Homo sapiens: one gene and its partner. The protein of the gene in region 1 interacts with the protein of each later gene in a pairwise test. Each region holds a gene or a part of one and is shown in the gene's direction. Other genes may lie near its edges.

Region 1 (7,230 bases):
TCCTACATCTGTTTCACTACATTTCTGTTCTCTCTTGAGTATGTAGGTTAGGATAAATCTATTTTCTATTGACGATACTCCGAATATTTTAAGAGGCTATGCTACATTCCCCACATCTTTCCATCTCTAAGATTAGTATTCCCTTCTCCTTGAATTGCTTATCTATCATTGTTTTCAGTCCCTTCATCTTTCTAGTCATCTTCCTGTAAAGGACACTAATACTTATCAAATTTTTTTCTGAATTTTGATGTCCAAAACAATATAATGCTTCTATTGCCAGGGATAAAATGTCAATCTTAGTAATTTTCTTTATAATGTAATGGGCTACTATTTATTGAATGCTTGCTATATGCTCAGTGCTTAAAATAGCACTGCAAAAAATGATTCTATTATTCCCATTTTGCAGATGAGAAGACTGAACTAGAATAAAACTAGATAACTAGAACAAAGTCAAGAACTTCACTCGACCTTTATTATTTATTTACTGGGTGGGGCAGTAGTTAATAGTAACATGACAACATATAAGCATACCTCTGTAGGTATGCAGGGGCCCAGACTGGAGGAGATATAAGATTAGGCAAAATGTCAAAATCAGCTAAACATTCTCTGGAAAAGTCCCTGTAAATCTAAGAGGAGCCTGGCATATATCATGCTGCACTGTGATTTAGAATGACCTGCCTTAGTCAAACTAGACTTTGTTCAGTCCAAGGGAATCTGTGGAGATCCTGTAGACTGCTCCTGGTTGGAAGGAAGGACCTGAACCATGGGGATTTCCCATCTTCCCTCCTACACTTCAACCAAGCATCTCTGCTTTTCTCTAGCTTTACATAATTACCCCAATCAGAAGTAGACAGAGGTAAAATAAAAATAAAAATAAGTAAGTGTGTTTGAAAGAGAGAAACAGAAAGGGAAAGAGAGAAAAGCCATTAGTCATGAAAAGTAGTCATAAAAAGAATTCTGACTTTGGAATCAGTTTACCTGTGTTTCAGCCCAATAATATATGTGGTAATATACTTCTCAGTGGGTTACTTAGACATTGTCTTTAAACACTCTGAGCTTTAGTTTTTTCACATTTCTTATAGCAGGTACTCAGATTTTTGTTGAACAAATGAGTAAATGAATAATTTTGTATTTTGGCAAAAATAACCTTACGAGGTTGTAGAGAGGATTAATGCTAATATAGGGTTTACTATAGCCTGGTACATAGTAGGTGTTTTGCAAATAAGGATAATAGCTATTATTATTATTGATTCAATGCTGCTTAGATTTAGGTACAGGTGCCCATGTGGCACTTTTATCTAAGTTAGATCGAGATTCTTCATTAAACTTGAAAGCAAATATTAAATGCTCTTAAATATTTGGAACATGCTTATGTCCAGAGGGGCTTTCCCATTACAAGGGAAGATTATAGGAATCTCAGGAGCTTCTTGGTTCTCTACTCTTGGGAGTGTGGCTTGTGAAGTTTGGTGGCGAAAATAGTGGCAACAATGGTGTTGTCTGGAAGAAGCCTTGCCATTCAGCCAGATGTGCCAAAAATCATGTGGCAACTCAGTGGGATCAATTCCTGCAGTCCAAGAGGTGCCCATATTTGCTGTCATTGCTCTTCCTTGGGTTTAAAACACACTACCCAATGACATCCAAATCTACGTATTTAGTACATTTGTCCTCTGGGTAAGAATAAATTATGAACCTACTGCCTATTCTTGAAAGAGAAAAGACAAAAAAGGGTACTATGCTTTTGATCTGAAAACTAATGTCTTTAATCTACCTAAATCATTGCTAGTTAAATACCATTTTCTGGTGAATCACATTTATCTGCTGTAGAGTATAAGTTCTCCAGATTAAGATCTTGTCTTTTCATAGGGTGTATAAAATAATGCACACAGCTTTAGCACTCCTGGTATAACAGATGGCTATCATTTGTAACAAAAGAATAACATTGGAAGCCTTCTGACATGTCCTAGAAGCTTGGTGTGCAAGAAGAATCCCATTACATACATATTGTAATCCCATTACAACATGTTGTAAAGGTATATTCCCCATAGGGAAAGCCCAATAACTAATTCCTTCAAATCTAGAAAACAGACGACTGAGAGTTAATTTTTTTTTTTTTTTGAGATGGAGCTTCACTCTTGTTGCCCAGGCTGGAGTGCAATGGCACAATCTTGGCACACTGCAACCTCTGTCCCCCAGATTCAAGCCATTCTCCTGTCTCAGCCTCCCGAGTAGCTGGAATTACAGGTGCCTGTCACCATGCCCGGCTTTTATTTATTTATTTATTTATTTATTTATTTATTTATTTATTTATTTTGTTATTTTTAGTAGAGACAGGGTTTCACCATGTTGGCCAGGCTGACCTCTAACTCCTGACCTCAGGTGATCCACCTGCCTCAGCCTCCCAAAGTGCTGACATTACAGGCATGAGCCACCGTGCCTGGCCAAGAGTTAATTCTAATTGCATAAAAATTCTTTGCTTTACAAAATAACATTTTTTAAAAAATTTTTTATTTTTTGCTAAAGAGTCTCTTGAAATAGCCAGATCTCTTTTTGGAGAATCCAAAATTGGATTTGCTTTACAAAATGTTTATTAGACTCAACTTTTCAGGAGCAAAGCGAGTGTGAAAAAATGGGACATTGCCTGTCAGGCATCAATGGTAAAGTGTCACTTAGTCACAGCGTAAAAAATAAATAAATAAATAAAAAGGCTCACCATTCCATCCCCTAAGCCCACCAAAGTCAAATTGTCCAAATGTGGCAGGTGGCTATTGCAGGCATCTGGTGCTCTCATTCCAGTCAGGAAGGTGAGGCTAGCATTGGGGTGGGGGCGGGGGGCAGACATCAGTAACTGTATGACCCTAAACACAGAGTCCGAAGAAGGGACCCCCAGATTACAGACAGCCTTTCCTCCACATATCAGACCCTCTTTCTTTACAAATACAGCAAATACAAGCAGATAACTGGGCATCAGTCATTTCTGATGCATTGCAGGAAAGAGCAACAACATACACTGTATCATTCAATTTATCAAGTAAACTACAGGCACTGTGCTAGACTCAAAGATAGAAAAGAAGACAGGGAGCAAAGAAGAAAACGCACGTTTAGTAAGACACCTGAGTGCCTTCAAAGACCATGCAATGTCTTTAGGTACTGTTCCCAGCTAGCTTCTCCAACAGAAAAATGAGCATACTCCATTTCAAAGCTGGATTCTGTAACCAAATGCACTATTCATATTTTTCCAAGGCTCCTAAACCAATAGTTAACTAGTCTCTTCCAAGATTTAGGGAGGCTGTTGAATTCTTTTCTGGAAGTTCTATGTATTTTGCTAAAAGTTGTGCTCCAAACACTTTACCAAGAATTAGGGTCAATGAAGGGGTACTTTGTGCAAGCTACAAATACTTGGAATTTTCATAAGGCAGTTCATTTCTGCCTTCCTGTGAATAATTTCATATTTCTTCCTTGTAAGACTAGGGTTTGTGTGCTCATGAGTGTCTAGATTGTCAGAATAGAAGGAGTGTTTAATACATTGAGTGGGTCTGGGGCCTGGAGATGAAGATGTGAGGGATGCAAGAAGGAGGATCTTGAATCAGATGGAGCGAAAGATAACTTGGAAACTCCAGTGGAGAAAAATGGCTAATTTGGATTGTTTAATTTGTTCAGGTTTGTGTTTTGGGTTCTGTCACACTTATGTTGAGAAACGTCCCTGCCATCTCTCTAATGCACGCAGTTTATGTTCAGAAACGGGCAGCACAGAGAGGAATTAGCGGTGGGGGAAATTTTCATCACCACCGGTGATGTGTGCACCGATGGTAGATGGCTATCCAGAGTGTAAAAATGTGATTCTGGGACCAAAGGGTCAGCTCTAGAACGAAATCAGACAGCTGGAGAACTGAAGATTCAACTCTTCCTAGGCAAGAGAGTGAGAAAGGTGGGTTGCTTGCAGGGTGGAGGTAGGGGTTGCTCCTCCTAGTTCCTGGGCTGGAGAAGGGCAGGGAACTGGGAAGTGTGTGTCAGAGGCTCGCTATGCTAGGACAAGGTGTTGGGGTACTAGGGTGGGTGGGGGCCTGAGGGGTGGCTTGGAGCCCTGGCGGTGGCTGCCTGACGTCACCGGCCTCTCTGGCAATAGGCTGCGAGCTCAGCTCCCTGAAGCGGCGGCGAAGGCGGCGGCGGCGGCGGCGGCGGCGGCAGCAGCGCGGCTCGGTCTCTGGTCCATTCACTCCACGCTTTCTGCAGCCGCCACTGCAGCCGCGCGGCGGGGGCTCCCTCCTTGCAGCCAGCCGGCGGTCCAGGTAAGAGACAAGGTGTGAGTAAAGGCTTCTGATGGCCGGGTGGCCTGACGGCCAGGTGCGAGTGGGGAGGACAGCTCACGCGGCCTGAGCAGCCACCCCTGGCCATAGCTCCAGCCCCCGCCCCTGCCCCCGGCCCCTGCCCTGGCTTGCTTGCGCGCTACCTCGCTACTCCGCAGTGCAACAGTTTGCAGCTGCCTCTTGGGAGCAGCAAGGAGGCTCTCCTGTGCGCTGCGGGTCTACCGGCTCCAGTATGCCGGAAAAGCCTCGGGGCCTTTGGGCTGGGTCTGGGAAGGACAGAAAGAAGGTCCCGTTCCCCAAACTTTGCAGGCGGGAACCCTCCCCTTTCCATTCCAGCTCCTCTAGAAAGAAGCAGGCTACTGCCAAGTTGGGGGCACAGGGAAATGGGGAGGAGGGGGCCGTTTGTGGGAATGTGTCAGCTGAGAAAGATGCTTCAGCTGCTTTTTTTTTTTTTTTTTTTTTTTTTTGGAGAGGGGAGAATACCAGGGAAGAAGGCTGGAGAAGAGATGGAGCGCGTTCCTGCGCGTCAGCCGCGGTCGCGGACAGAGGCAGAGTGGGATGTGGTGCCAGGGGTATCCCCCTGGGAATGGGACCCAAGGGATCTGACGCTGTCCAGGGAGGGCGAGTCTGGACGGGGAGGGAAAGGAAGGGAGGACTGCGTACCCGGAGCCCGCGCGGCGGCCCGGAGTGGGTGCTGGGAAGGGTAGGATCCAGGCGAAGACATCAACCGAGAGGGCGCAGAAAAGAGGAGAGCCGGCGCTCTGGGAAGTAGGGACTTCAACCAAAGCGGCTGCGTGTCTGTTGCAATTATAAAGTTGTGAAGGGCGGAAGGGAGGCTGCCTTATCTGCTGAGTAATCTGCACCTCCGCGGTGCCGGCGCAGACCCCATCCTGTCGAGTGGCATGAGCAGGCTGCTGGTGGCTCTGGTGCACGGCCACGGGCCGGCAGGCTGGGGTCCGCTGACCGAAAATACAGGCAGCGCCCAGCTCAGGCAGTGTGCCCAGAGGGCCGCTTTGCGGTGGTGGTTGATCTTTCCCGACAGCACTCCCCTGGGCAGCGGCCGAGATTCTAACTAAGCTTTGTGTCTTTGCAGCCTGGTGCCTCTGCAAAGGAAAGGGGAGCGTGGAGACGTGTTCGAGGTGGTATCGGCGAGGATCTCTCGGGCGCCGCTCACTCCTTGGTCGCCTTGCTTGCCAGCAGTTGCTCCCTTAGTCCTTGGCTCGCTCGCACACCCCCTCCCGCTACAGGGAGCAGTTTTGGGTGGCGTGGGCTCCGTCCTCTTCTTGGCTGGTAGGAACGGTGTGCCCAAGAGGGGAAGCCTAGTGGGCCTGGCCCCTCCCAGCCCCGCGCCAATGAGTGCCAGGGCGCCGAAGGAGCTGAGGCTGGCGTTGCCGCCGTGTCTCCTCAACCGGACCTTTGCTTCCCCCAACGCCAGCGGCAGCGGCAACACGGGTGCCCGCGGCCCAGGCGCAGTAGGCAGCGGCACCTGCATCACGCAGGTGGGACAGCAGCTCTTCCAGTCCTTCTCCTCCACGCTGGTGCTGATTGTCCTGGTTACCCTCATCTTCTGCCTCATCGTGCTGTCCCTCTCCACTTTCCACATCCACAAGCGTAGGATGAAGAAGCGGAAGATGCAGAGGGCTCAGGAGGAATATGAGCGGGATCACTGCAGCGGCAGCCGCGGTGGCGGGGGGCTGCCCCGACCTGGCAGGCAGGCCCCAACCCACGCAAAGGAAACCCGGCTGGAGAGGCAGCCCCGGGACTCTCCCTTCTGCGCCCCTTCCAACGCCTCGTCGTTGTCCTCTTCGTCCCCTGGCCTCCCGTGCCAGGGTCCCTGTGCTCCTCCGCCTCCACCGCCAGCCTCCAGTCCCCAAGGAGCACACGCAGCTTCCTCCTGTTTGGACACAGCTGGCGAGGGCCTTTTGCAAACGGTGGTACTGTCCTGATCGTCTAGCCCCTCTCGTTCCCCGTCCTCGTTTCCAGCATCTTTGCCACCCTTGCTTTTTTCCTTCTTCCTTCCTTTTCCATTTTCCTCTGGCCCCTCTTTCCTCTTCCTGGTTTCCTTACCTGCCCTCCCCTTACTCTTGTTTCTCCTCCGCCGAGGCACTGTGCGGTATTTGTAAATATTGGGCGAGGAAAGTCTCGGAAGAAGAAATAACGCTGATAATAATACTTTATTAATATTTATAGTAATTATTATAATACTAATAACACAATCCAAGCGCATGACAAATCACATAATTTCTAACTGTCAATGGAGGATGCATCTTCCCATTCCACCCCGCGCTCCCCTCAATTAGGAGGAGAAACCGCACAAGCTACCAAATATATAAAAGGCATTGATTCCCGGAGCAAAGGGAGGGGAGGGGGCCCGGTAATGTACATAGCTGTCAAGTTAAGATTTAGTTTCCTTCCTTCCCCTCTGACCCCTAAGCTTTCACTTTTCCTTTAGCTTCCCTTTCCTCCCCATTCCCACCCTCAGCCGGGCTCAGGCAATAGTATATTATAAAGAAAATGTCTACATTAAGCACCAGGACTGCAAGAGGCCATAGAGAATAGTCCCCGGAAAGTGTTTATGACAGGTACCCCTCGCCAGTCCGCCCATTTCTCACCCTTTGGTTAACCATTACATTTTCCAGGACAGAGCATTTAATTTACTTTTTAAAATGACCCTCGCTGGCCGAGCATAAGTACGTTAAAATCTTTAAATGAGTTTTTTTTAAAAAGCTAACGCTTTCATTCCCTGCCCCGCCCCCACCCGTACACCTTTGACTTGTGACATTTTCAGGATTTACAAAGGATCTGGGAGCTGTCCAGCCAGGTCTGGTGCTGAAGTCGCCTCACCGTTCTGATTACTTCCTCTAGTTGTGAAGGCAGAGGAGGGGCTGTTTTGGAAAGTGACTATTCTGGCTTTTGGTTGGGTTCT
Region 2 (4,633 bases), on another chromosome or scaffold:
GCACCTCCCACTCCCCAACCACACACATTCACACACTCAGCTTCCAGATCCTGCTCTCCCAACCTCCACCAAAACAGGGGAGTGAATTAGCCAGGCGTGGTGGTGGGCACCTGTAGTCCCAGCTACTCGGGAGGCTGAGAGGGGAGAATGGCATGAACCTGGGAGGCGGAGCTTGCAGTGAGCCGAGACCGCGCCACTGTGCTCCAACCTGGGCGACAGAGCGAGACTCCATCTCAAAAACAAAAACAAAAAAAAACAGGGGAGTAGGCACTTCATTTCTCCAGTGCATCCCAGTAGTACCCAGGCCAGCAGCCTGGTTCCTGCAGAGCCCCACCCATTTCACTTGGGGGCAGGAGACAAGCAGGGGGAGGTCTAGGAAAGAGACTCCTTTGCATATATGCTCATGGCCAAGATCAAGAGCTGTTCAGACAAGGTCCTGTTCTCCCTGCTCACCTCAGGTATGAAGAAGAAGTAGCACTTCGAGCCACAGCAGAGAACGAGTTTGTGGCTCTAAAGAAGGTGAGTGAAGCCCAGCTGGCCCTGAGCCCGCCCTGAGTCCCGCCACCCATCCTCTTTGTCCTGCCACATGGCAGCCAGGTCCTCAGAGCCCTCTGAGGAAAGCCGGCCTCACAGCCCCTTCTACCCCACCCAGGATGTGGACTGCGCCTACCTCCGCAAGTCAGACCTGGAGGCCAACGTGGAGGCCCTGATCCAGGAGATTGACTTCCTGAGGCGGCTGTACGAGGAGGTGAGGGGCTCTCAACCATGGTGGGCACAGATCCCCCCATGGGATCCCTGACCCTCTGCCCAGACACCCACAGGCATGAACCAGGCCTGCTGACATATGAACCCAGGCTCACGGCTGGAGGGTTGGCAGGGAGCAAGGAGAGGGAAGGAACAGGGAGGCAAACGGATGGAAAGCCAAAAAGGAACAAATTTAGTAAGGGGCAGGAGAGTGAGCACCCCAGACACCTGTGCCTTGGGAACCTGCCCTGCATCCTTCCCCTGAGCCAGTGGACTGCAGCATAGACCCCACACAGCATCAAACAGAATTGAACCCATTGCTCTGGCCCAGGGCTTTCTCTGGCAGCAATAGCCTTCCTACATGGGGTTGGTCTAGGAGAATGGAAAGAGGCCCCCCATACAGGGTCTGAGCCCCTGGAAAGCATCTGGACCATGCTGGCTGCACATGGGCCTGAATAATTCCAAAAGCAAGCAGTTGAGAAGTGGTTGTGTTTTCCTCTAAAGGGATTTCCTATTTGTGCAGAAAGTTATGTGATTTCATCAGGTTTGTTTCTCTAAACATGAGAAGTTCACTCCCGATGAGCCAAAAGGATGATAGGCATCCAGGGATTAGGAGAAGCCCAGATAAGTGAGTTGTCCTTCCTTTCCCCACCTCCTGCAGGAGATCCGCATTCTCCAATCCCACATCTCAGACACCTCCGTGGTTGTCAAGCTGGACAACAGCCGGGACCTGAACATGGACTGCATCGTTGCCGAGATCAAGGCACAGTATGATGACATTGCCACCCGTAGCCGGGCTGAGGCCGAGTCCTGGTATCGCAGCAAGGTGAGCGGCACAGGACACCTGCCTGCTAGACATGGCAGTGGGAGGGATGTGAGGTATCTAGTAGAAAAGGCTTCTTTGTCTAGGGATTCTGATCCCTAAGGATGGTAAGAGAAAAACCAATAGCTCTCATGTTGGGGTGGCAGGGCAGGACTGCCACGTGTGGTTGCACAGGCCGAGCACTGCACAATCTGTGCAATCATCTGAGCTGTCCTGAATGAATGGGATGTCTCATCCTGAGCCTCATGAACATCTCTGCTTCCTGCAGTGTGAGGAGATGAAGGCCACAGTGATCAGGCACGGGGAGACCCTGCGCCGCACCAAGGAGGAGATCAACGAGCTGAACCGCATGATCCAGAGGCTGACAGCCGAGGTGGAGAATGCCAAGTGCCAGGTACCAGAGCCCGGCCCACCCCTCAGTGTAGGAAGAGACTGGGGTTAGCCCTCGGCAGAGGGATTTGAGTTAGATTCTGGAAAAGTCTTCCCAGTGCAGTCTCATGGGTGACAGAGTAAGATGAGAAATCTACTGAAATATTTCTGATTGTCTTGGCCAAGGTGTGTGTGTGTATCTGTGTGGTGTGTGTGTGTGTGTGTGTGTGTAGTGTAAGTGAGGAGGGAAGGAAGGTTAGGAAGCTGATTGGAGAGATAATATTTTAAGATAGAAGTTGAATGATCCTATTGGAGACTGGCTGGGATTTCAAGAAACTAAACTTCACTTTATCCTCTCCATATTCCCCCTACCTCCCAGAACTCCAAGCTGGAAGCTGCGGTGGCCCAGTCTGAGCAGCAGGGTGAGGCGGCCCTCAGTGATGCCCGCTGCAAGCTGGCCGAGCTGGAGGGCGCCCTGCAGAAGGCCAAGCAAGACATGGCCTGCCTGATCAGGGAGTACCAGGAGGTGATGAACTCCAAGCTAGGCCTGGATATCGAGATCGCCACCTACAGGCGCCTGCTGGAGGGCGAGGAGCAGAGGTGGGTCCAACCCAGCCCTAAGCACTCCACTTGCATAGACCTGCCCACCTTTGATTTTTCCCTATCTCAGTCTCAGTCCCCAGGTGACATTCTTGCCTCTATGGATCCCAGATCCATATCTTCAAGTTGTCTCATTCTCAACTCTTCCAAGATCCATACCCTGCCTGGTTTCTTGGACATCACCTATTCTAGGGCAGGGTTGCTGGCCAAACTCCACCCCTGACCTCGTCTTCCCAAGAGGGCCTTCTCCTTCTGAAAGTTGAGCCTATCTAGACCTGACAGATATGGTTGTTCAGGTTGTTCACTGCACAAAGGCAAATAACAGCTGAGAGACAAATAAGAATTGAAATCCAACCATACTCTACTTGCTAAATAGTGTGACCTGACGTTGCTTCAACTGCCAGAAAGGCAACTTTTTCTAAGCTGCACAAGGGAATAAATGTAGGTCAGAAATAGCCCTGAGATGACCCATTTCAGCACCTAGCGGAAATTCGATGACCTCATTCTGACTTCTTTTATCTTCCCCTTCCTTACTTTTTCCCCACTCAGGCTGTGTGAAGGTGTTGAAGCTGTGAATGTCTGTAAGTATCTTGAGCCCTGAAAAGGAAAATGTAGACTGGGGACAAAGGACTTCTTGACTATGAATATATGCAGAGACTTTGGGAGGAGTGTTTCCAATAATTCCCCCAGTAAAGAGGATAGGTTGGTCATGCAGCAAGACAGACTGAGGTTAGCTCGCAGGAAGAACCTCACAGCCTGAATGTGTTGGGGAGGGGAAAAAATAATAAGATGTCATTGCAAGAAGGGACCTCAGATGTCATTCATAACCTTCACCTTATATAGGTGAGAAAGCTGAGGCCCAGACAGAGGAAAGGACTCCCAAAGTCACAAAGCAGAACCAGGACCAGAACCCCGGTCTGCTGGCTCCCAGGCTAGGGTTCCCTCCTTCAGAATAGAACTGGAGGCTCTTTGCATCCTTCCCTGGATGGTCGACACATCAGACAGACCAAAGGAAGGTGGCTGGATGGGATGGCCATCAGCAGGGGTCTCTTGACCCTGCCCTTGTTCCCACAGGTGTCAGCAGCTCCCGGGGTGGGGTTGTGTGCGGGGATCTCTGCGTGTCGGGCTCCCGGCCGGTGACGGGCAGCGTCTGCAGTGCCCCCTGCAACGGGAACCTGGTGGTGAGCACTGGTTTGTGCAAGCCCTGTGGCCAGCTGAACACCACCTGTGGAGGGGGCTCCTGCGGCCAGGGGAGGCATTAAGTGGCCCAAAAGAGAGCCAGGGGAGCCCCTTCTGCCTGCCAGACGTGCCACTGCCCCACCACCAGCTGAAAACAGCAGCACATCGCTGGCTTTTCCCCTTGTGTTCTGAGAATACACCATCGGCTCATTCCCACCAGCGGCTCCTCCCCACCTTTCATCCCACTGGAAAGGGGCCTGTGGCTGGGGAATAGACCCATTCCTTCCCCTGTCTCAGCCTTCAGCCCCTCCCGGGGAGAAGGGCCTTGCTTCCCTGGAAGAAGCACTGTGAGACTGTTCCCCCTGCCTCTCTGGCCTCTTGTCTCCCCTTTTCCAATAAACTTGGGGACCTGCTTTGTGTGCTGCAATGTCTTGCTTTCTTGGGGTTCCCCACACCCACCAAGTGGTGAGCACCCCAGCCTGATGATATGGCCTGAAGACTAGAGTCGTTCTGGCCTGTTCTCCGCCTGGACACCCGTAGGGCCTTGTCCCCAGATGGTTCTGTCATCTCCTGGCCAGGCAGTGCTGACTGTGCTCACAGCACCTTCTACCTGTCACACCTGTCAGTCTGGATGGCTCTGAAGGGGACCGAGGAGGCCAGAAGTCAGCCGGAAGGCAGTGCATGTGCATGCGCATGTTTATATGTGTGCACGTGTATGCGTGCTTGTGTGTGTGTTTGAGTTTTGCCCCCTTCTTGCATACACGGTCCCCACTTTCTCTTCCTAGCATATCTTCACTCTGCCCCCCAGCCATCCTTCCACGTAGGTACCACAGCAACAACCACCAAAAGTGCCAGCAGCCACCCTTGGGGGCTGCCCTGTGTCAGTCTGGACCCCACCCCATTGCCACATCCTCCTCA

The links. The genes of interacting proteins can lie anywhere in the genome.
Region 2: the proteins of C11orf87 (region 1) and KRT83 interact in binary tests that used the Homo sapiens proteins (3 or more experiments, as listed by UniProt).

What each region holds. Positions count from the first base shown.
Region 1 is NC_000011.10:109,417,978-109,425,207, forward strand, and holds the start of C11orf87 (uncharacterized protein C11orf87 precursor), read left to right. Parts: upstream 1-4,212; 5' UTR 4,213-4,286; intron 4,287-4,460; exon of another isoform or gene 4,461-4,590; intron 4,591-4,801; exon of another isoform or gene 4,802-4,890; coding exon of another isoform or gene 4,891-5,072; intron 5,073-5,397; coding exon of another isoform or gene 5,398-5,656; coding exon 5,657-6,250; 3' UTR 6,251-7,230.
Region 2 is NC_000012.12:52,313,796-52,318,428, reverse strand, and holds the end of KRT83 (keratin, type II cuticular Hb3), read left to right. Parts: intron 1-458; coding exon 459-519; intron 520-652; coding exon 653-748; intron 749-1,405; coding exon 1,406-1,570; intron 1,571-1,835; coding exon 1,836-1,961; intron 1,962-2,315; coding exon 2,316-2,536; intron 2,537-3,085; coding exon 3,086-3,117; intron 3,118-3,610; coding exon 3,611-3,798; 3' UTR 3,799-4,128; downstream 4,129-4,633.